3 linked regions of the Homo sapiens genome follow. The protein of the gene in region 1 interacts with the protein of each later gene in a pairwise test. Each region holds a gene or a part of one and is shown in the gene's direction. Other genes may lie near its edges.

What was found. The genes of interacting proteins can lie anywhere in the genome.
Region 2: the proteins of POP5 (region 1) and POP1 interact in binary tests that used the Homo sapiens proteins (3 or more experiments, as listed by UniProt).
Region 3: the proteins of POP5 (region 1) and DCDC2 interact in binary tests that used the Homo sapiens proteins (3 or more experiments, as listed by UniProt).

The regions. Positions count from the first base shown.
Region 1 is NC_000012.12:120,578,020-120,586,472, reverse strand, and holds POP5 (ribonuclease P/MRP protein subunit POP5), read left to right. Parts: upstream 1-5,070; 5' UTR 5,071-5,110; coding exon 5,111-5,130; intron 5,131-5,215; coding exon 5,216-5,358; intron 5,359-6,549; coding exon 6,550-6,699; intron 6,700-6,821; coding exon of another isoform or gene 6,822-6,875; coding exon 6,876-6,959; intron 6,960-7,060; coding exon 7,061-7,155; 3' UTR 7,156-7,709; downstream 7,710-8,453. UniProt on the Homo sapiens protein: Component of ribonuclease P, a protein complex that generates mature tRNA molecules by cleaving their 5'-ends. Also a component of the MRP ribonuclease complex, which cleaves pre-rRNA sequences.
Region 2 is NC_000008.11:98,133,652-98,141,636, forward strand, and holds part of POP1 (ribonucleases P/MRP protein subunit POP1), read left to right. Parts: intron 1-297; coding exon 298-385; intron 386-820; coding exon 821-1,008; intron 1,009-2,830; coding exon 2,831-3,087; intron 3,088-3,209; coding exon 3,210-3,303; intron 3,304-6,426; coding exon 6,427-6,538; intron 6,539-7,117; coding exon 7,118-7,237; intron 7,238-7,545; coding exon of another isoform or gene 7,546-7,553; exon of another isoform or gene 7,554-7,614; intron 7,615-7,985. UniProt on the Homo sapiens protein: Component of ribonuclease P, a ribonucleoprotein complex that generates mature tRNA molecules by cleaving their 5'-ends. Also a component of the MRP ribonuclease complex, which cleaves pre-rRNA sequences.
Region 3 is NC_000006.12:24,347,716-24,355,700, reverse strand, and holds part of DCDC2 (doublecortin domain-containing protein 2), read left to right. Parts: intron 1-2,077; coding exon 2,078-2,132; intron 2,133-7,985. UniProt on the Homo sapiens protein: Protein that plays a role in the inhibition of canonical Wnt signaling pathway. May be involved in neuronal migration during development of the cerebral neocortex. Involved in the control of ciliogenesis and ciliary length.

The DNA.
Region 1 (8,453 bases):
CTCTGTGGGAGAAATTGCTGGTGGAGAAATTGCTGGGTCAAACAGTAGAGCCCTTGTAATTTCAATTAATTTTTGGATGAGCGAATTCTCACAGCAGGCGGGGACAGGGAAAGAGGTTCACAGGGCAGCGAGGACAAAGGAGGAGCAAGATGCAATGTTTTGACTGAAGTCCAGGGAGGGCTGCATCTGTCCCAGCAACCTGGAGGATGTGGCGGCTCCCCAAGCCCCTGGCTAAGCAGATGGAGGGTTTAATTTCATCTAGATTGTCCCCATAAGGGTTTTACAGAAAATTGGTTAAGATTCGAGGAGTAGGAGCCTCTTACGAGCAGTGGCTGCTTAATAAAATGCTGGAGCAGATACAGTTTCCCTTTGCCACCATCCACAACAGCAGCATCTGGGCTCTGACAGAAACCCCTCGGATGCCAAAGTCACCTCAGAATGGTACCCCAGTTGCGCTCTCCTTCCTCAGCATCTTTCTAGGTCCCCGAATACAGAGTAGAGAGCAAGGGGTTAAGAGCACAGGTTTTAGGGTAAGACAGATGTCCACCCAAATTTACTGTGTCAACTTGGGCAAGCCATTTTCCTCCCTGTGTCTCAGAGGATAATGGGTCCTAACTTCATGAGGCTGATGTGAGGACTCAATCAATCAAACCCAGAAAAGACAGTGGCCAGCACACTGGGAGAGCCCAATTAATGATCACCCAGGAGACACGGATGAAGAATAAAGACAGTGATCCCGGCTGGACACGGTGGCTCACACCTGTAATCCCAGCACTTTGGGAGGCCCAGACAGGCAGATCACATGAGGCCAGGAGTTCGAGACCAGCCCGGCCAACATGGCAAAACCCCATCTCTGCTAAAAATACAAAAAATAGCCAGGTATAGTGGTGGGCACCTGTAGTCCCAGCTACTCAGGAGGCTGAGGCAGGAGAATCGCTTGAACCTAGGAGGCAGAGGTTGCGGTGAGCCAAGATGGAGCTACTGCCCTCAAGCCTGTGGGACAGAGTGAGATCCTGTCTCAGAAAAAAAAAAAAAAAAGGCCGGTCGCGGTGGCTCACGCCTGTAATCCTAGCACTTTGGGAGGCCAAGGTGGGTGGATCACGAGGTCAGGAGATGGAGAGCATCCTGGCTAACACGGTAAAACCCTGTCTCTACTAAAAATATAAAAAATTAGCCAGGCGAGGTGGCACGTGCCCGTAGTCCCAGCTACTGGGGAGGCTGAGCCAGAAGAATCGCTTGAACCCGGGAGGCAGAGGTTGCAGTGAGCTGAGATCGCGCCACTGCACTCCAGCCTAGGCGGCAGAGGGAGACTCCATCTCAAAAAAAAAAAAAAAAAAAAAAAAAGGAATCTGAGAAGTCCCAGGACGACTGTAATAATGCTAACAGTAATGACAACAGTGACCACCCCATTGATCCAGGGGATACCTGACTCGGCTAAGGGCACAGGCTGGGGTCAGACAGACGTGGATTGGGCTCTATTGTGCACCTGGGTGAGTTGTGATGTCGCACCTGGGTGAGCTCACCTCTCAGAGCCTCATCGGCTTCCTCACCTGGGGAGGATAATGGCTCTGCGGCCCGGCTGGGGAGAGAACCGAGGAGGGGTTGGGGTGTGAGCCCCCGCCGCTGCCCCTTCGCGGCCGGCATTCCGGCGGCGGGCACGGCCGGGGCACACCCCGTCGCCGTCCAGCGGATCTCCGGGCCCCGGGGAAGACGGCCGCTCCTCCTCCATGCCTCCGCGGGCGGATTCCCCCGCAGCCTCCCGCGCCGCGCAGCGGGGACCCGGGTGATTGCAAACAGCCGCCGGCCTCATTAGGAGACTTATAATTAGCGGCTGGCGCAGCCCGAGCCGGCGCGCGCTAATTACCGCGGGGAGCCCGCCCGCCCGGCCACCGCCGGCGTCTGCACCCTCCTGGGCCAGAAGGGGCCGGGCCTGGTCCAAGACTGGGAGGCCGCGGGCCGTGCCAATGTGCTTCCTCCCGGGGCTGTGCCTGTGGGGGAAAAGTAAATCATTTGTTCAGAACAGCGTTTACTTGCCGAGGGCGGTGGCACACGCCTGTAATCCCAACACTTTGGGAGGCCGAGGCGGGCGGATCACTTGAAGTCAGGAGTTTGAGACCAGCCTGTCCAACATGGTGAAATCTCTACTAAAAATACAAAATTAGCCGGGCGTCGTGGCAGGCGCCTTAATCCCAGCTACTCTGGAGGCTGAGGCAGGAGAATTGCTTGAACCCGGGAGGCAGAGGCTGCAGTGAGCCGACATGGCGTCACTGCACTCCAGCCTGGGCGACAGAGCAAAAAACTGTCTCAAAAAATTCCTGTTGTTTGGCTATATTTTCTTTTTTCTTTTCTTGTTTTTAAGACAGTCTTAAAAATCAGTCTCAAAAAACAAACAAAACAAAAAAAACAAAAACAAAAAAAGGGCTTACTATGCACTCGCTGTGCCAGGCATTTTGTCCACATGACCCCGCTTAAACTTCATATCCACCCACGAGGGAGGAACCATTGTTATCCCATTGCACAGATGAGGAAACTAAGATCTGAGACATGAATTAACCCTCCTGACAGCACCTGGCCGGGCCAGTAAATGACGGAGTAGCGAATCGAACCTCCATCTGTCGTCTCTCCATCTTATTACACTAAATGGACGAGTGAAATCCTGCACGGGAGAGCACCAACCGTGTTGACCAGAACAAGGAGTCAGCTGGCTTTGGGTTCGAATTCTGATCCTGCTCCTAACTGGATACGAGGCTTTGGTCTGAGCCCCAACTGCATCTATAAAATGGGCGAAGCATTGCTGTTGAAATGAAGGCTGGGAGGAGTGAAATTTCTATGAGGGGTGGAGCGCTCAGGAGTTGGGGGTGTCTTGCTCTCTCCGCGCACTGCGGACCTCTGGCGCCCCCTGTTGGCCAAAGGAGGATGTCGCAGACACTTTCTGGTGAAAAGTTGTTCTTGGGTGGGGAGTGCCGTCACTGTCACTGGTCCCTTGGCAGGGCCACGGCGTTCCCTCTTCCTATTCTTTTCTTCCCTACCTTCCCCCACATCCCTCCTTTAAGGTGGCCAAGAAGAGTGGGAGATGGGAAAATTCAGAACTCATTCCAGATCTTGCAAAAATAGGTTGTGAAAGCTGCCCCCATTACGGACCTCACAGGACCAGCCAAGGCCAAGACACTTCTACAAATAATCAGGGATGGGCATAAAGACTAAGCTACAAAGCCATGCATCAAAGTATTGGGTATAACAAGAAAATCTAGAAATAATGTAAACGTCTACCAAAGGGATACTGACCAACTTCACAATGGTACGTCCAAACAATGCAATACTGCACAGCTAAAAAACAGTATTGTCGCTGAAGAGCTGACATGAAAATATAGCCAAATGGCCAGGCGTGGTAGCTCACGCCTGTAATCCCAGCACTTTGGGAGGCCGAGGTGGGTGGATCACCTGAGGTCAGGAGTTCAAGACCAGCCTGGCCAACATGGGGAAACCCTGTCCCTACTAAAAATACAAAAATTAGCCAGTTGTGGTGGCACACACCTGTAGTCCCAGCTACTTGGGAGGCTGAGGCAGGAGAATCGCCTGAATCCAGGAGGCAGAGGTTGCAGTGAGCTGAGATCGTGCTCCAGCTTGGGCAACAGAGTGAGACTCCGTCTCAAAAAACTAAATAAATAAATACAAAAATTAGCTGGTCGTGGTGGCAGGTGCCTGTAATCCCAGCTACTCGGGAGGCTGAGGCAGGAGAATCGCTTGAACTCAGGAGGCAGAGGTTGCAGCCAGCCTCCTGGCTGCATTTATATAAAGTTTAAGAACAGGCAAAATTAATCTAGCAGGGTAGAAGTGGTAATAGTGGCTGATAGCAGTAAGCAATTTGACTGGAAGAGGGCTCAGGGAACCTTCTGGGATACTGGAAATGCTCTTTATTTTAATCTTGGAGGTGGTTATAGAAGTCTATCCATATGTAAAAATTCATTGAGATGAATACACTTAAGAATATGTACTTTATGTAATACCCCATAAGACATTTTTTTTAAAATACTTAAAAATAAAAGAAAAAACATAATTTAACAGAGGGCATAGTTCTCAAGCTGTTTTCTCTGTCTCAGGACCCCTTTACACACGTTACTGAGGGTGCCCAAGAGCTTTTAGTTTTGTGGGTTATATTTACTATGGACATTAAAGTTGAGAAACGTTTAAAAAACAATACACAATTCCTAGAGCAGTGACGTCATCACGTCAAGCAGCCTCTGGAAAACTTGACTGTTCACTCAGAGAGAATGAAAAAGACAAGTAACATCTTAGCATTATTATGAAAGTAATTTTGACTTCGGGGACTCCCAAATCGAGTGAATTTAGGAAATCTCAGTGGTCCCCAGACGGCACTTTGAGAACCACTGGCGCAGGGAGAAAATGACAGAAGAAAACACACTACACGACAACAGTTATTCTCTCTCAGTGCTGGGATTATAATTTATTTGCTTCTTTGTGCTTTTCTGTCAAAAAAAAAAGGTAAACGGAAATGGAAAATACAATGACCACGTATTGTTTCTGCGAGCAAAAAACGAGACGGCACACTCGCCTCCCTAAGATTGCTGAAAGGCCCAAACAGCAATAGCATATTTAGCTGTATGGAAGAATTAAACTGAGCTCAAACCTGAAAATAAAAGTCCGATTTCCCGTTTGTCAATGCCTGGGCTGTGAGGTGCAGGGTCTTGCCCTCAAAAGCTCCACCGTTCACCTTGGGGAGAGAATATACTCGCATACATAACTGTGGTGCAAGGTTCCCAGGGCCCCAAGGGTAGCGGCTACATCCTACACACTATTGTAAACTTCAGTGTGCAACAGAACCATCCATTACAGCTGCAAGGCGCTCCATCCCGGGGTTCAGCCCTCAAACTAGTCAGTGACCCTCCGCAGGACGCATGCGCGCTTACAAACGCAGTTGGGCGGGGCTTGAGAGAGCTGACAGACTTCGGCCTCTCAACTTTCTAGCTCCGCCCTAATATCCTGTCTCCTTCTCTGAATGGCTGAAAGGCTGCGGAAGCAAGCTTCCCATTGGCAGCGGACAGAATTCACATCCGGTTTGCACGCCGGACCGGAGAGCGCGGAGGCAGCCATGGTGCGGTTCAAGCACAGGTAAGCATTCCCTTCCAGACCCTCCCAGTGCCTTGCTGGGTCCTCGCGGCCCCGCTAGTGTCCACCTTCCTCTCGCCTGCCGCAGGTACCTGCTCTGCGAACTGGTGTCTGACGACCCCCGCTGCCGCCTAAGCCTCGATGACCGAGTTCTGAGCAGCCTCGTACGGGACACGATCGCCAGGGTGCACGGAACTTTCGGCGCAGCCGCCTGCTCCATCGGCTTCGCGGGTGCAAGGGCGCTGGGGGAAGAGGGGAACCCGGGAGGATGGCGGGATGTGGAGGGGGCAGGCGCCGGAGGAAGAAAGAAGGGGCACGAGTGGCCAAGCCCGTGCACCGTTTTTTGTAAGGTATCTCTTTAAGCGCCTGGGACCCCAAGCGAGAGTCCGAAATTAGCAGAGCGCTAAAAGGAGGGGCCCGAAGGCAGTGGGGCTTTGAGCTAGAAGCCTCTTTTTACCTGCTTGACAGGTAATTTCTGTAATTGGTTGTGATTGAATTTGATAGGGTAGAGAATTAAATGAGGGAAGCTGTGTATACTTCCTAGTAAGAGCTATTATATGACCGATTACATTAACATCATATGGAAAAAAATTGTCAAAAGTACTCCGGGAAAGCCCTTAAATAGTTGGTAAAGTACAGAACACATGATTGTCAATATATGTAAATACAGGATGAGCTAGGACAGAGGGGCCCTTCTTTCACACCACTTAAATTAGTTCCCACTTTAACCTTGTTTGAGATTGACTTCTGGAGAGTTAAATGCAGATAGACTTAACTCTCCTAAGTCAGGTGAGACTGAGAGCTGACTGCTACAATAATTACGGAGCCCAAATGCAGTAAAACAGCCTGTTTTTCAGGCAAGGGTTTTGTGGGGGTTTTTCCTAAATTAAAACGGATCGCCTCCTACCTGCTCCTATTTATTGAATTAACTAGTGAATTAGAAAGCATTTTCAATTCTAAATTCATTCACCAGTTCTGAGTGGTGTGCAACACAGTGGGTGTTTTGGCTTTTCTCTTTTACTCGCTGATAGATCTACGTGCCACTTGCCTACAACATACTTTTGGCACATAGTAGGCTCTGTTACTCCAAAGTTTTCCTTTTTTCGAGACAGTCTGGCTGTTGCCCAGGCTGCTGGAGTGCAGCAGCGAGATCGGGGGTCATTGCTGCCTCTGCCTCCTGGGTTCAGGCGATTCTCATGCCTCAGCCTCCTGAGTGGCTGGAATTACAGGTGCGCACCACCACACCCAGCTAATTTTTGTATTTTTAGTAGAGACGGGGTTTCATCATGTTGGCCAGGCTGGCCTCGAACTCCTGACTTAAAGTGATCTGCCCGCCTCAGCCTCCCAAAGTGCTGGGATTACAGGCGTGAGCCACCACACAGAGCAAAAGTTTTCCAAAATGATTTTTCTTTCCTGTTGTAGTTCGATATCTCAATGCCTATACTGGAATAGTGCTACTTCGATGCAGAAAAGAATTCTATCAGCTTGTGTGGTCAGCTCTTCCCTTCATCACATACTTGGAGAACAAAGGACACCGTTACCCATGCTTTTTCAACACATTACATGTGGGAGGTAGGAGTGAGGTGGTATGGCTACTGATTTTCAATTGGTGACACGTTCACAGTTCAGTCTAAACTGGTGGGTGGGTCTTGCTGCTGTCCCGCTAACAAGACACTTCCCCCTACCTCTGAAAGTCTGTAAGGTCGAGATCTTTCACAAGCTGTTGACCACAGTAACTCATATGCCAGGTACAATAAGAACATGTCAGAAGTTCCTAATTCAGTACAACAGGAGACAGCTGTTGATCTTGTTGCAGAACTGCACTGATGAAGGTAAGCAACACTAGCCCAGTGCCCACTGAGCAGTGACTGACCTTAAGCTGAAGAAATCACTCCCAAAGATATCTTTCATCCCTGTTATCTGCCTTCTCCAGGAGAGCGGGAAGCTATCCAGAAGTCTGTGACAAGAAGCTGCTTATTAGAGGAGGAGGAGGAGTCAGGTGAGGAGGCTGCAGAAGCAATGGAGTGAACCTCTGCTCCCCACACAGCTGGCTACACTGCTCAGGCTTCAGGCCCACTTGTTGAACAGAACAATCTGGGTAGCAACAGCATCTTCCACAGTTTTCCAAACTGGATAGCTGCCAACCAGCAGACATTACCCACTTGAAATGGAGTACTCAGTTAAACTGAAGTTGCCTTTACCTAGCATTCCCTGGTGAAGTGTTGCAGGTTGTGAACTCTGTAGACATCTTTATTGCTTGGCTAAGAGTAGATTTAATAAATGTATCTGGTTTCCGTGGCATTTAGCATACTTATATTACAGAAAGGGCTTATGGAGTCCATGCTTGGCCAAGTCTCTGTTCTCTCTCTATCCCTAGCCTTGGTGGGAAGACTGACTCCCTATGTGGTACTAGTTAAACTTTTTTTTTTGAGACAGTCTCAGTCTATCACCCAGGCTGGAGTGTAGTGGCCCAGTATCGGCTCACTGCAACCTCCGCCTCCTGGGTTCAAGCAATTCTCCCACCTCAGCCTTCCAAGTAACTGGGATTACAGACGTGCACCACCACGTCTGGCTAATTTTTGTATTTTTAGTAGAGACGGGGTTTTGCCATGTTGGCCAGGCTGCTGTTGAACTCCTGGCCTCAAGTGATCGGCCTACCTTGGCCTCCAAAAGTGCTGGGATTAAAGGGTGAGCCACTGTGCCTGGCCTAAATTTTCAATACTTAGCCTTCTACCTGAAGCTTTGTACCCCCGGCCCCATGATGGGCCCTAAGCAAGCCAAGTCATTTGGAATAGAAATATTAGTTGAGACACAGCAACTGAACTGGCAGAGATCTACAGCCCATCTCAGTACTGAACCACAGGGTCTTACAGATACCAGATTCCTTGCCAATAGTTAATCAGGTAACTTAAAAAATACAACTTTGGGCCGGGCGCAGTGGCTCACACCTGTAATCCCAGCACTTTGGGAGGCTGAGGCGGCCAGATCACAAGGTCAGGAGATCAAGACCATCCCGTCTAACGCAGTGAAACCCTGTCTCCACTAAAAATACAAAAAATTAGCTGGGCATGGTGGTGGGTGCCTGTAATCTCAGGTACTCAGGAGGCTGAGGCAGGAGAATGGCGTGAACCCGGGAGGCAGAGCTTGCAGTGAGCTGAGATCCCACTACTGTACTGCAGCCTGGGCTAGAGCGAGACTCTGTCTCAAACAAAAAATGCAACCTTTGCAGTTGGGGGGGGCGCGGGTGCTGGCCTCATCTGACATCATTACTGCATGGTCATGTAGCAGCTGTCCACTTAAGGAACTTAAGGTAGTTTTTGTAGTTC
Region 2 (7,985 bases), on another chromosome or scaffold:
AGATTACCTAAAAAGTAGGATACCGTAACTTACATTTTAAATGGAGATTCATTTTTATTTTGGTTCGGGTTGGTTTAAAAATATTTGTTAAGGTGACAGGAATGGACAGGTTTAGATATTTTTTCCACTAAACCATCGGGCAGGAGAAGGTTTAGATTTTGACTTATGAGAACATAGCTTTAGCAATTTGTTTTGTGTCTTAGGCCTCTAAAGGTTTTGTGATACGGCTTTTGGCTTCTTAGCAGTTTTGCCTGTGTAAATTCCTAAGTACTTAATTGTGTCTCCCGCTTTGTGCAGGATTTATCCTATTACTGTTGTTTGGAGTTGAAAGGCAAAGAGGAAGAAATACTAAAGGCGCTTTCTGGAATGTGTAACATAGACACAGGTAAACTTGTTTTAAAGCTGAGTTCTATTTTAGTCTATGTATATTTATTCATTTCATAAAGAAGTGTCTACTGTAAGCATTTTGGAATTCAAACATATAGAAAAGTGTGTGAGACACTAATCATTCCCAATGAAAATGTTAACTTAAAAACAGTTGGGTTGGCTTTTAAATAATTTCTAACATTGTCAAGTGTAAAGTGATAGAGTCATTTTTCTGGTGGAGTGAACTTGACAGAAAGAAACTTGAAGCTCTCATTACTCATTTAACACATATTTGTTGAGAACTTATTGTGTGCCAGGCTTTGATCTGAGCAATCCTCACAACCAAAACTTCACCTCTCATGGAGGCAGACAGTAAATGACAGTGTGGTTATCAGGAAATAGGACTGCAGTCTCAACACCCGGAATTATGGAATTTTGCTTTTGTTGATGTCAGGGCTGACGTTTGCAGCAGTTCACTGCTTGTCTGGAAAGCGCCAAGGGAGCCTTGTGCTTTATCGGGTGAATAAATATCCCAGAGAAATGCTTGGGCCTGTTACGTTTATCTGGAAGTCCCAGAGGACCCCGGGTGACCCTTCTGAGAGCAGGCAGCTGTGGATCTGGCTGCATCCAACCCTTAAACAGGTATAATCCTTCAGGTTATCTCCCGTCATTCTGAAACTGCATTTTTAATTACTGCTGGAAGTCAATACTGTAGAAATGTAAATAGTGTAAAGGTTTGTCTGATAGTCTGATATTTGTATATGGGGGGCTCTATGATTATTGAATGAAGTGAATTTTTAAAAAACTTTAAAAATTTGTATTTAAAAATGTCTAATTGACAAAAAGCAAATATATTCAAAGTATATAATATGATGATTTGATATACATGTTGTATACCACAATCAAATAACACATCCATCACCACCCATGCTGTACATTATATCCCCGGAACTTGTTTATCAAATATAATGAAGTCAGGGCGGGGCATGGTTTCTCATGCCTGTAATCCCACCACTTTGGGAGGCTGAAGCAGTTGGATCACTTGAATCCAAGAGTTTGAGACTAGGCTGGGCAACACGGTGAAACCCTGTCTCTGCAAAAAAGACAAAAATTAGCTAGGATTGGTGGCATGCACCTGTAGTCTCAGCTACTTGGGAGGCTGAGGCGGGAGGATCACTTTGAGCCCAGGAGGCAGAGTTGCAGTGAGATGAAATCGTGCTATTGCACTCCAGCCTGGGTGACAGTGAGACCCTGTCTCGAAAAAAAAAAAAACTAATCTTGACATCTCATATTTTTAGTAAGTCATAAGCAGAAGTAGAGATAAAAACCAGCCTTATGCTAATTATTTGAAATGTTGAATTTGAACTAATGTTTCTACCATGACTGAAGTGGTTCACTAGTATCTAGGGGCTATTTGATAATGAAAAGCTATTTTTGAGTAATTCTAATGATTTTTCACACTGAATTTAGCTTAGCTTCCCTTCTTTAGCATACTCACTACTTTAAAAAAATGTAGTCAGAGTGATCATGTTGTTTTCATAATATTTGACTAACCCTACCCCTAGCCCCAGCCCTAATTAACCCATTTGAAATTTTCAGTTTCAAAATTTTTTTTTGTTTAAAGTGGCATACACTACTCAGAACACCCAAAAAAGCTTTTTTTCAAAAATTAAAATTAAATTAAAAAAAATTTTTTTTTCCCAGAGGGTTTTGCTCTGTCATTGAGACTTGAGTGCAGTGGTGCAGTCATAGCCCACTGCAGCCTCTACTTCCCAGGCTCAAATGATCCTCCTACCTCAGCCTCCCCGAGTAGCTTAGACTACAGGGGTGCACCACCTTGTCCAGCTAATTATTTTTTTATTTTGTGTAGGAACAAGGTCTCCCTATGTTGCCCAGGCCATGGTCTCAAACTCCTGGGCTGAAGCCATCCTCCTGCCTCAGCTTCCCAAAGTGCTGAGATTACAGACGTGAGCCACCACACCTGGCCGAAAAAAGCTTTTTGATGATAAATTTAATTTAAGTTAATTTGTGAGGGAATACAAATGTGATTTTTTTTTATTTTTTATTTTTTATTTTTTTTTGAGACGGAGTCTTGCTCTGTTGCCCGGGCTGGAGTGCGATGGCACGATCTCAGCTCACTGCAACCTCTGCCTCCCAGGTTCAAGTGATTCTCCTGCCTTAGCCTCCTGAGTAGCTGAGATTATAGGTGCCTGCCACCCAACTATTTTTTGTATTTTTCAGTAGAGATGGAGTTTTGCCAGTTGGTCAGGCTGGGCTCGAACTCCTGATCTCAGGTAATCTACCCACCTCGGCCTCCCAAAGTGCTGGGATTACAGGTATGAGCCACCGTGCCTGGCCAAAAATGTTAATTTTTAAAGAGATTTAAAAAAAAAAACCCAACTAAATTTGTCGTAATATATTTAAATTTCAAGATTTTAAAGTGAATGTTTAAATATATTTTTAGGATATCTTAGAGGAAATAAAAGCAGCGTGCCAGTGTGTGGAACCCATCAAATCAGCTGTCTGCATCGCTGACCCACTTCCAACACCATCCCAAGAAAAAAGCCAAACTGAATTGCCTGACGAGAAAATTGGCAAGAAAAGAAAAAGGAAAGATGATGGAGAAAATGCTAAACCAATTAAAAAAATTATCGGTGATGGAACTAGAGATCCATGTCTACCATACTCTTGGATCTCTCCAACCACAGGCATTATAATCAGGTATGAGTTGAATTTGCTTTGAACCTACTGAACATTTTCAGTGAAGACCTGCTCCATTTTTGTCAGTGGCACAGATGTTGTGTGATGAAAGTTTCCATTTTAAGATGTTCTTTCTTTTTCAGCGATTTGACGATGGAGATGAACAGATTCCGGCTGATTGGGCCACTTTCCCACTCCATCCTAACTGAAGCAATAAAAGCTGCTTCTGTCCACACTGTAAGAGTAAAAGTGACTGTAGTGTTTTATTCTAATCATGTTTTTCCTGTCAAATTTGTGAAACCTAATATATAATTTGGTAACATTTTGGGCCATGGCTTTTAGATGTTTATTTCCCTACTTATTATGCTTATTATCAAAGATTTTGTTATCTTTCACTTCTCCTAGAAGACCACAACTAAGTGGATATGATCAGTAAACTGACTGTTCTTACTTAAATACAGACTGCTCTTGCATCTGTGAGTCTTGTAGAGGGTCTTAACTTCTGCTTCATAGGTAGGGAGTCTCTAAAATCCCTGAAATTGTGTGCCAGATTTTGTGATGTGTGCGTGTGCCATGTAGGTTTTCTTTTCTTTTTTTTTTTCTGAGATTGAGTCTCATCCTGTTGCCCAGGCTGGAATGCAGTGGTGCGATCTTGGTTCACTGCACCCTCTGCCTCCTGGGTTCAAGCGATTCTCCTGCCTCAGCCCCCCGAGTAGCTGAGACTATAGGTGCACACCACCAGGCCCAGCTAGTAGAGACAGGGTTTCACCATGTTGGACAGGCTGGTCTGGAACTCTTGACCTCAGGTGATCCGCCCACCTTGGCCTCCCAAAATGCTGGGATTACAGGCATGAGTCACCGCACCTGGCTGGTTTTCTGGGGCTAGTTTTAGGGGTCTAGAATCTCTAAAAAGGTTAAGAGCAGTATGTCTAGGGCAGCACTTCCAGTAGAGCTTTCTGTGAGGATGATGTTCCTTTGTGCTGTCCAGTACGACAGCCATTAGCCACATGTGGCAGTTGAATACTTGAATTGTGGCTAGAGTGACTGAGGAACTGAATTTATACCTTTACTTAACTTTAATTAACTAAAAATTAAATTTGAGTAGCTCTATTGGCAAGTGGCTAGCATAGAGACTAGATTAGGAATCTGCACCCTGGGTTCAGATCCTGTTCGTTTTCTGGTCTTAGTGCAATTAACTTTTCAATGCCTGTGCCTCTCACTGACTTGACGTGGTCAAATACGATGATAGAGCTGAACAGATTCTGAGTTTTTAGAAGAAAGATGCTTTAAAATACAAAAGCTACTTTTCTCCATCTTCACTGCTTCTGCTGTACTCTCAACCAGTGTTGTCTCTTGCCTGAACAATTGGGGGATCAGGAAAGGATTCTAGAGGGAACCTTAAGTTTCCTCCATCCTTCCTCCTTTTCAGCCCATTCTCCACACAAGAGGCAGAGTGATTTTTTGATAATTTATTCCCTCTTGTTGCTTCCTGATGAAAAGTTTTTGAATAGCTTCTCATTGTAATTAAGATAAAATCCAAAGTGCTCAATGTGACCCGTGTAATCTTGTGCCTTCTTGCCTCTGAGGCCTCATTTCTCCTCACCCTTCTACACTTCAGCCACCCTGACCTTCTTTCAGGTTCTGGAATGTCAGTTCTTGTCTCCCTTAGAGCCTTTGCACCTGTTTTTTCCTTCCAACTACTGAGCATTCTGCCTCCACCACTCTTTACTTTGCTGAACCTTCCTCATTCTTCAGATTTCAGTCTCTAGCATTTCCCTCTAGCATCCTTTCCTGATCCCCCAAGTTAAACTAGATCCCTCCTGTTGTTTTCAGAGAGAGCATCTTGCAAATTCCCTCAATTTATTTATATAGATTTGTGTATTTATGTAATGTCCATGTCTCTCATGAGACTGTGAGCTTCATAAGGGTGAGGATAGAGTTGGTCCTGTTTTTCACTCTCTCCCCAGTGCTTAGCACAATGTCTGGCACAGAGAGGGTGCCCCGTAGTAGCTAATAAGTTGTGGAGCAAAGATTTGAACCAATGAAGTTTGGTTCCAGAGCCTGTACTGTAAACCACTAAGCTGTGCTACCTGAGTTTCTGTGAGTAAATGGTACCTTTGTTATGATTGCTTTTTTTTTTTTTTTTTTTGTTTGAGACAGAGCCTCACTCTGTCACCCAGGCTGGAGTGCAGTGGCACAATCTCAGCTCACTGCAACCTCCACCTCTCAGGTTCAAGCAATTCTCATACCTCAGCCTCCCGAGTAGCTGGAATTACAGGTGCCAGCCAACACACCCGGCTAATATTTTTTGTATTTTTAGTAGCGGTTTCACTATGTTGGCCAGGCTGGTCTCGAACTCCTGGCCTCAAGTGACCCGCCTGCCTCGGCCTACCAAAATGCTGGCATTACAGGCATGAGCCACTGCACCCGGCCATGATTGCTTCTTTAGGATCCGTAAGTGCACATCCTACTTCAGTGAACTTCAGCATGAGTTGTGGCTATAGATTCCCTTCTTGCCATGCATGTGATACTTGAAGGACTTTTTGAAATCTTCCTCAATTCCTAGTTCCATGTGGAAAAAATATACATTTCTAGGAATAATGTAGTAGTAGTATATCTTTTATCTGGAAAGTTCTTCAAAAGGTACTGGTTTGATTTTCCTTTGGTGAGGAACATTTTATTGCTTACATTGGAGATGATGAAGTTAGCTCTAGTGGAAGAGGACCAGGCGTGTGGCTCACACCTGAAATCCCAGCTCTTTGGGAGGCTGAGGTGGGTTGATTGCTTCAGCCCAGGAATTCAAGACCAGCCTGGGCACCATAGTGAGACCATATATCTACAAAAAATAAGTTAAAAAAAATTAGCTGGGCATGGTGGCATGTGACTGTGGTTCCATCTCCCAGCCACTTGAAAGGCTGAAGTGGGAGGATCACTTGAGCCTGGGAGATTGAGGCTGCAGTGAGCCATGACAGGCCACTGCACTCCAGCCTCAGTGACAGTGAGACTGTGTCAAGAAAAAAAAGAGAGAGGAGCGAGGCCTCCTTTGTTGGTACTGCGCTCTGGAGAGACTTTGAGTGTGAAGTATCTTAGTGAGTTAGTCTATGAAAACCATAGATGATTTTCTTCATATGTGAAATCTTGAGAGAAGTGTAATACTATATCCTTGCTGCTAATTCAAAGGGTAGTTAGTCTGGTATTAATTACTATGTTAAGTATAGTGGCAACTTCCCTGGTTCATCCCATAACACATACATTTCCACACATAGAAGAAGAAAGAGTGGGGGCTGATATCACAACCATGACAAAATTATGAAGGTGGATTCATTGTTCGTCCAGTGAATAGTAGTTGTTATTTTTCAGGTGGGAGAGGACACAGAGGAGACACCTCACCGCTGGTGGATAGAAACCTGTAAGAAACCTGACAGCGTTTCCCTTCATTGCAGACAAGAAGCCATTTTCGAGTTGTTGGGAGGTATACAAAGGGAAGACTGGGTTGTGTTGGGGAGGGAAGGGGGCCAAAAGAGCCTTTTGCAGTTGGGCCTCCAACATGTAGTATTGCTTTTTAACCTGCTGCTATTGTGACACAGCAAGAGAACCAAGTAAGAGAGGGACTGAACTCAGTGAATAAACACTATATTCATGCCTGGTTATGAAACAACAAACAAATGGTATGTTCATATTCTAAGTAACTGGCATTCTGATAGTGGAGATAAATGCATACACCAGGTACTGACCTAAACTCTATGCTTACCTGCACACAACTGCATTTTTGCTCATAGCTGCTGTAGTTATCACTGATAGAAGCATATGTGTTCATTTCATAAAAGAACCTTTTTTTATGTTGGCCTCATGTTTTTTGCAAGAAACCTCATTCTTTATGAATGTTAACTTATTCTCTAAAAGTATCAATGGGAAGAGAGGGAATACATGTTTTTAAGTAATTAGTCCAAGAAAAACGTTTCATTAGGAAATCTGAAAGATTTAAAAATACAAGCAAATACAGATGTATTATGAATGACTTTCTGTAAACTTCTTTTTGTTGTTGTTAAAGGAATAACATCACCAGCAGAAATTCCGGCAGGTACTATTCTGGGACTGACAGTTGGGGATCCTCGAATAAATTTGCCCCAAAAGAAGTCCAAAGCTTTGCCCAATCCAGAAAAATGCCAAGGTAAAGTTCCAAAAACACCCCAGGTTTTCCTTACTATTTCGAGCAGTCCAGTCTTATTAGAAGAAGAGTTCTTTCTCTGACACCTCTCCAGTAACTTCATCTGTAAAAAATTAGGGCAGTCTCCTTACCTGCCCACTTTACAAGCTGATTATGATCTAAGGAAATGGTAGGTGTGGAAGTGTCTTTTAGCAGTAAAACACGTAGCCTGATACTTATGTTCATTTTATTTTCCGAGTTCTCTTTTTTTAGTATCTAGTAAAACCTGTCTCTCTGCAAACTACGTTCTCTGAAAATGTCTGGCGTTTCAGAATTTTAATTGTGAGGAAGGGATCTGCACCCGAAGCTGGTCTTGTGCTCAGTGGAAGCCTCTGTCTGACCATACAGATGATCCAGGTTCGAATCCTGGCAAGGCCATCCCAGGTGCTGAAGTATAAGATGTCTTGGTTTAGACTAAGTAGTACTAGAGGCCTGAGAAAGTTGTTTGGCTGGGGTGGCACAGGAGGTGGGTAAGGGGCTGGCTAAAATTTTGTTCTGATATGAGATTGGCAGCAATTTTGATAATGTCTCATTGTATTTACTGTCATTTAAACATGATTAATTGGAAGAATAATTAAAATTACCATGTGAGTCTTTGGAGATAAAGTAAAGGTTTGTGTTGTAACGACTTCAGAATTTTTTTTTTTTTGAGATGGAATCTCGCTTTTGTCACCCAGGCTGGAGTGCAATGGATGGCGTCATCACTGCAACC
Region 3 (7,985 bases), on another chromosome or scaffold:
TGTTAAACTTCGTAAAAAAGGGCTAAATGAAATTGCATGCTTAAAGGAAACTTAAAACCAGGAGACTGAAGACTGAGTTGCTCATCAGCTCTGTGTCCTTGGGCAAGTCGCTTGACTCAGCTAATCAGTTTCTTAATACAGAAAAGGTGCATAATCATTTGTACCACACAGGGCTGTGATAAAAAGTAAATGCTATAGATGTGTGTTTTGTAAACACCAAAGTGTTACATAAATATAAGACACCTCTATGACCAGTTCCTTTTGTTACATACTTTATTTTTTATTAAATATTTCCGTCTAAAGCAATTTCGTGGAAATGAAAGTCTGGTTCAGAATCTCTGAACGGCTGAAAATTGTAGACTCACTTTTATAGTTCATGTTCTTTTGTTTATTTGATCCTACCAACTCACAAGATTAAAAAAAAAAGGTACAGTTCCACACCAAATAAAAAAGTGTACTCAAGTCTCTCTAAGAGATTTGCATGTTATTTTTGCTTTCAGTTCATACACAAAAAACTGAATTTGTTATAACAGTGTCCATGGTTAGGTTTCCATGCTGACAGATGACTATTTTATTTGTGTTAAAGAAGTAGTATCTACGGTTATAATGATAGAAGCCAAGAATACTTGAATGTTGAATATATTTGAAACTTAGCACTTATAAGTTTATGTAAAGAATGGAGAAACTGTCAGAACAAAAGAAAGCCCAAACGATATTGAGGACAATTCGTGGGCTTTCATTTAGACCCTAAATGTTGGGAAAGACAGCAACATCTTTTTCAAATGGAACTGATCAAATCGCTGCTTGAATTGCTTTCACTTAGATTTTTCTAATATTTTTGAAACGATAACTAAACATCAGGTAGCTATTAAACCCTTATTTATTTCAAATGTGAGACCATACATTCACAACCTTTATTTTACAGCAGAGGATTCTAGAGAGTATTTCCCCCAAAACTTTCCCTGTGCATTGTTGGAAGTTGACTCTGCAGCATTAATCTTGTGGATCTGAAACCACTTTCCTGCACATGACAGAATATTTTGGTATTATTTCAAAACTCAGCCCCTGCAGGTCCACAAAAGACCCATTTTATTGCTAAGACGGAGTGTTTGCACTGTTTTAAAAATATGACTACTTTTATATAGGGGCATTGTATGACAATTTCCAGAGATATGAATTAACTAAAGTATTTTATCCAAAAAGGCAAACAGCAACAATAAAAACATTTCAATAGCCAAAATTAATTCTAACATAAGCTTTTTTTGGGACAAGTTGGCAATTGTAGTAGTTGGGGTAAAGGATTGATCTATCATTATAAATTATATGTTAGATTTATACTTTTTAATATTAAAATGTTTATTTAGCACATTTTATGTATGAAGCACAGTTTAGGGACCATTTAAAACTGGAACCACATCACAGTGATATTACACGTGAAGTTGACAAAGGTATACAGTTTTCAGGTTGTGCTTATGTAACAGCTAAAGAATGATCACTGTTAGTATCTAGAGCAAATAGTAATGGAATAATAGGGGTCTCCAGAGGTTAACTAGTCCACCCATCTGTTTCTTAGCTGAACCAATTACCAAAGTCATCCCACATGAGTGAGTGTTTTTGTATCATTAAGGTGCTCTCATAGAGACAATAATTTCTCAGCCTTTCCCAGTTGTTACCCTAATGCACGCTATCAGTACTTCCTTTGACCTAAAGCCTGTATTTAATGGAACAGTTAAGCAGCTTTGCACATAAGCCACTCTTTTAAAAAATCAAATCTGTAAGAATATAGTGTATATAGTAAGCAGCTAACTATTAAGAGGGAAAAATGTTCTCTAATAGATGTATGTATTTCTAAGACTTTCCTTCTCTTGAAGTTTAGGGTAGACATATGTCAGCTCTGGTTGGTGACACTGCAAACAGTTTTTACTATTGTAATTGCTTTTCATTAGTAGCTATTTGTTTTTGCTTTAAGGTTGAGAATTTCCTATGAGTTGCTTTATTTTTTTATGATTTTTAAAAATAAATTACTGACTTAAAGTCTATAAAAGCAACTCTTATTGTTTGTTTGTTTTTTCCTCAGTTACTTGGACATAGGAGAAATCAAGAAAAGACCAATGGAAGTTGTTAATACAGAGGTAATGCAAATATTATTTTGAAAATTCAAATAAATAACGGTGCCATTTGTTTCTTATGGTGTGTCTTAGAGATTTGGACGGCATTCTACTTTGATGAGTTCTCTAATGTAAAGAAATGGAACATTATATGTTTTAAGGCAAAGATAATTCTTTCTTTGAATCATTGTCAGAAATGAAAAGACTGAGTAGATGTTCTAAGATGTGCAGGATATGTCAAGATTAGACAAAACATATTTTTCTCTTTTCTAGCTACATGTTCTCTGATTGAAATCCATGGGAAGGTTCCCTGTCAAGTGAGAAGATTCTGAGCGTTGTTAAATAAATCTTTACCAAAGCTACATCCTCATCCTAATGTGCCTCTGATAACTCAGTGTTTGATGTAGCCAGGGTCACCCTAACTGCCCCTGAGGCTTTCAAAGGAGATGAGTAGATGTCACGTTGGACACTTTGTGATGTCAGGAAAACACCTGTGTTTTAGCTTCTATCGAAGTACGAGTTAAGCATAGTTCGTGAAAGCTTATGTGAAGGTTGGAAAAGGAGCTTGTGAAATATTCACAATACCGCATTCCACGTAGCTTCTGAAACCCTGGTGGAGTTTTAGGTATTCTGTAGGATGTATTCTTTAGTTTGTGAATGAAAAAATAGATTAAAAACAAAGTTGGGGCCACAGCCTGAGACAGGGAAAATTGTAGTTAGATCCAGAATAGGCCTCTGTTCACCAGCCCAGACAGCCACTCTTCCCATTCAGACCCCAAATAAACAAGTGCTTCCAATGGGTAAGTGCTGCCAATGAAGAAATGGCCAACAGGAAAAGTAGTTTTTCTCACTTGTAGTCCAGAGCCCCAGAGGGACTCTCCTCAACACTCACCATTTCCTCTCACATCATGTTTGTGCCTAATAGGACCAAATAGGCCCCTCTAGAAAAAATATTGCGTAAGAAAAAAATTCTAATTGTACAGTATTTGAAGAATATGAGGTTAAATTCATTATTCAAATAATCTGTAGAAAGAGGTACCCTTCCTAGACATCATTTAACATAATTAATATTTTGGCTTGTATTTTCAGTGCATCAAATTGATTAGTCATGAAAGTGATAGGCTTTGTAGCTTAAAGTAGACAAAGGTATACAATTTTCAGGTTGTGCTTATGATATAGCTAAAGAATGACCACCAGTTGATATCTGTCTCAAGTAGAGTAGTAATAAAGGGCAGTGTTGTGAATTTGTTCTGGATGTGATTCTGATGAAAGGATACACACCTGTTTAAAGTATACTACCTTGCATGAAATTGGTGAAGAAACCTGGACTTCCGCAATAGAATTTGAGATGTGTGAATTCCCAAAAAATGTGAGCACAGTATATTTACTCTGGATTCCAGTGTCTTTGCTGAAGACATTATCCCTAGTAAAAGACAACAGGTGTGCAATAGATTTATCGAATATACTTTTTTCTTAAAAATTTTTTTTTGAGACAGAGTCTCCTTCTGTCACCCAGGCTGGAGTGCGGTGGCTCGATCTCTGCTCACTGCAACCTCCACCTCCTGGGTTCAAGCGATTCTCCTGCCTCAGCCTCCTGAGTAGCTGGGATTACAGGCACGTGCCACCACACCTGGCTAATTTTTTTGTTTTTCGTAGAGACGGGGTTTCAGCATGTTGGTCAGGCTGGTCTTGAACTCCTGACCTCATGATCCGCCCGCCTTGGCCTCCCAAAGTGCTGGGATTACTGGCATGAGCCACCAAGCCCGGCCTTAAAATAGTATTTTTAATAACAGAAGCATTCACAGAAACTCCAGTTCATTTAATTTGCTTATTGTTCTTCCACTCTGGGGACAGTAACCATTGTTTCTCTTTATTTTGCACTTACACATGAGCCAACGTACAAGATCCTTATTTATGGATGCACACCTTACGTGTGAAAAACCTACCCCTTGTCTCCAAATGAAAGACTGCATCTCTTTCATCCTGCTTCCTACTGGTGACTCCCTCCCACTTACTCCTTTCCTCTTGCTGCCCTGCTGTGGCCTTTTATTTCTTCTCAGTCCTTACCCATAAACCCTTCTAAAGGAGATGGAAAGAGAGAAGTAGAAGAAATTGTGAAATGCAAAGGAGATGGGAAAAGGTGTTCAGAAACTGCTTGTCCATGCTCTTTCCCGCATCTTCCACTCACTCATGCCCAGCTTTCCCACTTGTTCGCTAGAGTCCTCTCTCCCACTCTGCCCTCCTGTCCTAAAGTTTCCTCCAGGTCTGGACAAGCAGTGTGTTCACTTCCCTCACTTCACATGTCCAGTCCGGAGATACCTTCCTCCCCAAAGTTCGCACCATGACCTTCACCCTCCGAAGTCTGCTTTAAGCAAAGGCAGCCCCTACTTTCATTGCCAGAAAGAAAGGTTTTTGGGTTCTTGGCATCTCAAAAGGGAACTATGAAAGCATTTTTCTTCTGGAAATATCACTTTGACTCTGAATTCTATGGTATTTTTACGGCTGTTTTAGGTAGAGCACGAGTGGAAAAGGGTTTTGCAGGCTGCCCTGAGAACCTAATTATACTGTGTGATTTTTAGTATGGGAAACTACCTTTCTCTTTCCCACAACTGATTTATAGTCAAACTTTTGGAGTTCAACAAGTTGATAAGTTGGAGGATGATCTATGCTCAAAATTTGAGAACAGACTTGGTAGAACACTGGCATTTCACAAAAATTATAGATCTTTAAAAATCTTAGGTGGGTATTTCCTTTCAACATTAATGTGTTGAGAAAAGATTGCACATCTTGTTAAGTGCTATTAAGGATGAGCATTCTTTGGAGTATGATGATATATAAAGGGAGATCAATAGAGAATTATTTTTGAAGTGGATTTAGAACATGAATACTTCATGAAATTGGAGGGTTAAGAGTTGTTTCAAGGGGGAGTTTCAGTGCCGTAGTAGCACAAAAAAATTCAAAAATGTGTCATTATGAGGGATGAGTAAAATAACTTACTCACCAAAATGGGGGGCATTTCCTTCAAATCTAAGGTAATTTTGAGTTTTCAGTGATGGGCCTGCATAATAAAAGCCACCACCCCAGTATACACAATTCAGTTTTTCTGGTTGCCTAAAACATACTAATTCTAATTATTCCGAGTACATTTTATACGGAAAGACCTTTGCATTTCAGTGGAGTCATGCAGAGTGTGTGGCACTGGGTCCTACCCACTGTGGCTGGGACACCCTTTCAGTGAGTGCTGGGAGTTATTCCTTCTCCTTTTCCAGAGCAGCTCACCCAAGACCATGGGTACGATTTGTTGCTTTTACGTAGTTAATAATTTAGACAAGATGGCACCTGCTTATTGACTTCAGGTCATGCTAACTAGAATGTGCGTGTCACCTTGACATTGGAAATGCTTTTGTGGTTTGTGTCACTGCTTGCTTGTTCCATGAGGCTCATCTTTGAAGAGATACTTAAGGACAGCCAATGCTATTCCTCTTCCTCTTTATGGCCTCATGATGGGTTTGGGGAAAGGCAGAACTGTAATGGACCTAACCCAAAAGAAGCATAGGGTCCTATTTGGTGAACACTTTGCACAGCAGGAAGTAATGGGGTGGAGGGGGGGAATAAAGAAACAGAAGAATAAAAGAAAGAGGAATAAGGTGACTCTGTGGTTGTTTGCACCCACCTCAGAGTCAGGGCACCATATGGGCTCAGAGCAGCCTATCCCTGACTCTCTACACCCAGGTCCTGCTTTTACTAATATCTAAATAAACAGATCTCCTGGATTGCCCTTGTACTCTTTTTGTGCTCCTGAGTCATTTTGCATAGCTATATTTTCATTTTTCCTCCCACTTTCCCTGTGTCAGTGGTGGTTTAATGAAGACAGTTTTCTTAGCTTCTGACCGTGGTAACTCATCTCCTTGTATTTATGACTTCCCAATCCTCTCTTTGCTTCCTCGTGTCCCACCTCTCAGTCCAGTTTCACATCTCATTATATCTTCTAAGTCCTAAGTTGATTTACCAGCTCCTTTCTTTCCTCTTTACCTTAAGCAGCCTGTGGGAGTCCTCTGTCCTCATGCAGTTGGAGACCTCTGATTCTGCATGTGTGATGCCTTTACCAGCACTTACTCTTGCCCCTACCCTTCTGCTTTACTGAATGTGATTTCTGCTTCCTCTCTTCTTGTTTTCCTACCTTGTCCTCTCTGCTTCCATGTTATTGAATGCCTATACAATGCAGTGGGCAGAGTAAGCAAAATGATTAAGACATGCATGACCTCTCACATCCAGGAATTTATAGTCTTGCTGAAAAGACAGATGAGCATCTCTAGTACTACATCATAAGTGATTCGATTTAGTAAATATAGTTTGCATTGAGCCATTTAGTTCAAGTGCTTCTGGCTTTATCATGTTGCAGCAAAGCCATTTGTGGACCCTTCAAATGGAAGCGTCCTTCTGCTTTGACCTGGCATTGTAGATCTCACTCTTCATTCCTGCACCTCATGTCTCATCCATGTAGTACATCCTTCAAATAATGACATTCTTTTTTTTCCATAACCATTCAAGGTGGAATTAATGACATTCTTAAATAGATATTTAGAGTACAAATCTGTTTTACTGTGTAAGGGGCTTTGGTACATGTTATATAGAGAGGGGAAGAGCAGGCAGCTTGACTTTGGAGCACTTAGATGGGCTGGGAACTGTGCTAGGCACTAGGCATAAAATGGATACTTCACTGCTCTTGCTCTTTGGGAGTTCAGCGTGTAGGAGAAGAGACAGAGAAGTAAACTAGCTATGATTATCTAGTGGCAGGTGGCTGTGCTAGAGGTGTGCTCAGAGGACTGAGGAAGTGCAGATTGGATTAGGGTTGTGGGTCAGCCAGTTTGAAATGGTTTAAAATATAATAGACCCTTTTGTTTTTTAGCCTGCTTCTCTTAGATCAAAGTTTTGAGAAAGTCTTTTTCTACAACTTGATTAAGAGGGTATTATTTAATAATTATATCTGTAAGAGTCAAAATCAGTCTCTAGCAGAAAGAGTGAAAATCAGCTTGCATGGAAAAGAGGAAAAGGTCGCTTTGCTATTAACCAGGCTTAGAGGATAGACACATTTAAAGCCAACTATAAAATTAACAGGAAACATTGTTTCTCCCATGGTGGCACAGGGCTGTAAAATGCCACAAGGATCCCTTCTTTGAGTGATGACTGCTTTCTTACTGCTGATGCTCTCAGACTTGCTTTGCTATTCCCATCTTTTACGGAGATCTTTATTGGATAAACTTCTCTTATCTCATACAACCCCTGGTTAATCCCTGATTCTTTTAATTTCACCTTAAAAACAGAAACCAATCTAGAACTGATCTCTGTTTCCCTTAGCTCTTCAGAATCCTTCAATGAGATTCCAAACCCTACAAACCTACAAACCCTCCTGCCTCTTTGTCACTGTCATTTTATGGATTCTTTAAGTGCTGGCACTTGCTACACCAAGTCCACACATCTGATTTTGTCAGACTGCAGGCTTGTTCCTGTTAGACTTCTGATTAGGCTTTAACATATACATCAGAGTTGTCTGTTAGATTGTGGTCTCTAGGAGGTCTGCTAATCCTGTATCGTACCCACCACGCTGAAGACTGGGAATTGTTTAAATTTGCCATGGTTTTGATCTTCCTTTTGGGCCAATTTAAGTAGATGTCCATTTGCCTTGCACATGCCTGGTTATTCCGATTTTTGCATGATGGATAGGACGTCTCAAGTAATTTAAAAGCCTTTTTTTCCACCACCTATTTAGATTTTGTTTCAGGGGTAAAATTAGTTATAGTTAAATCTTTGTTTGATACATTTATTGCCCCTGTAGGATAATTTGCAGCTATATTGAATGAATGCTATTCATGCAAC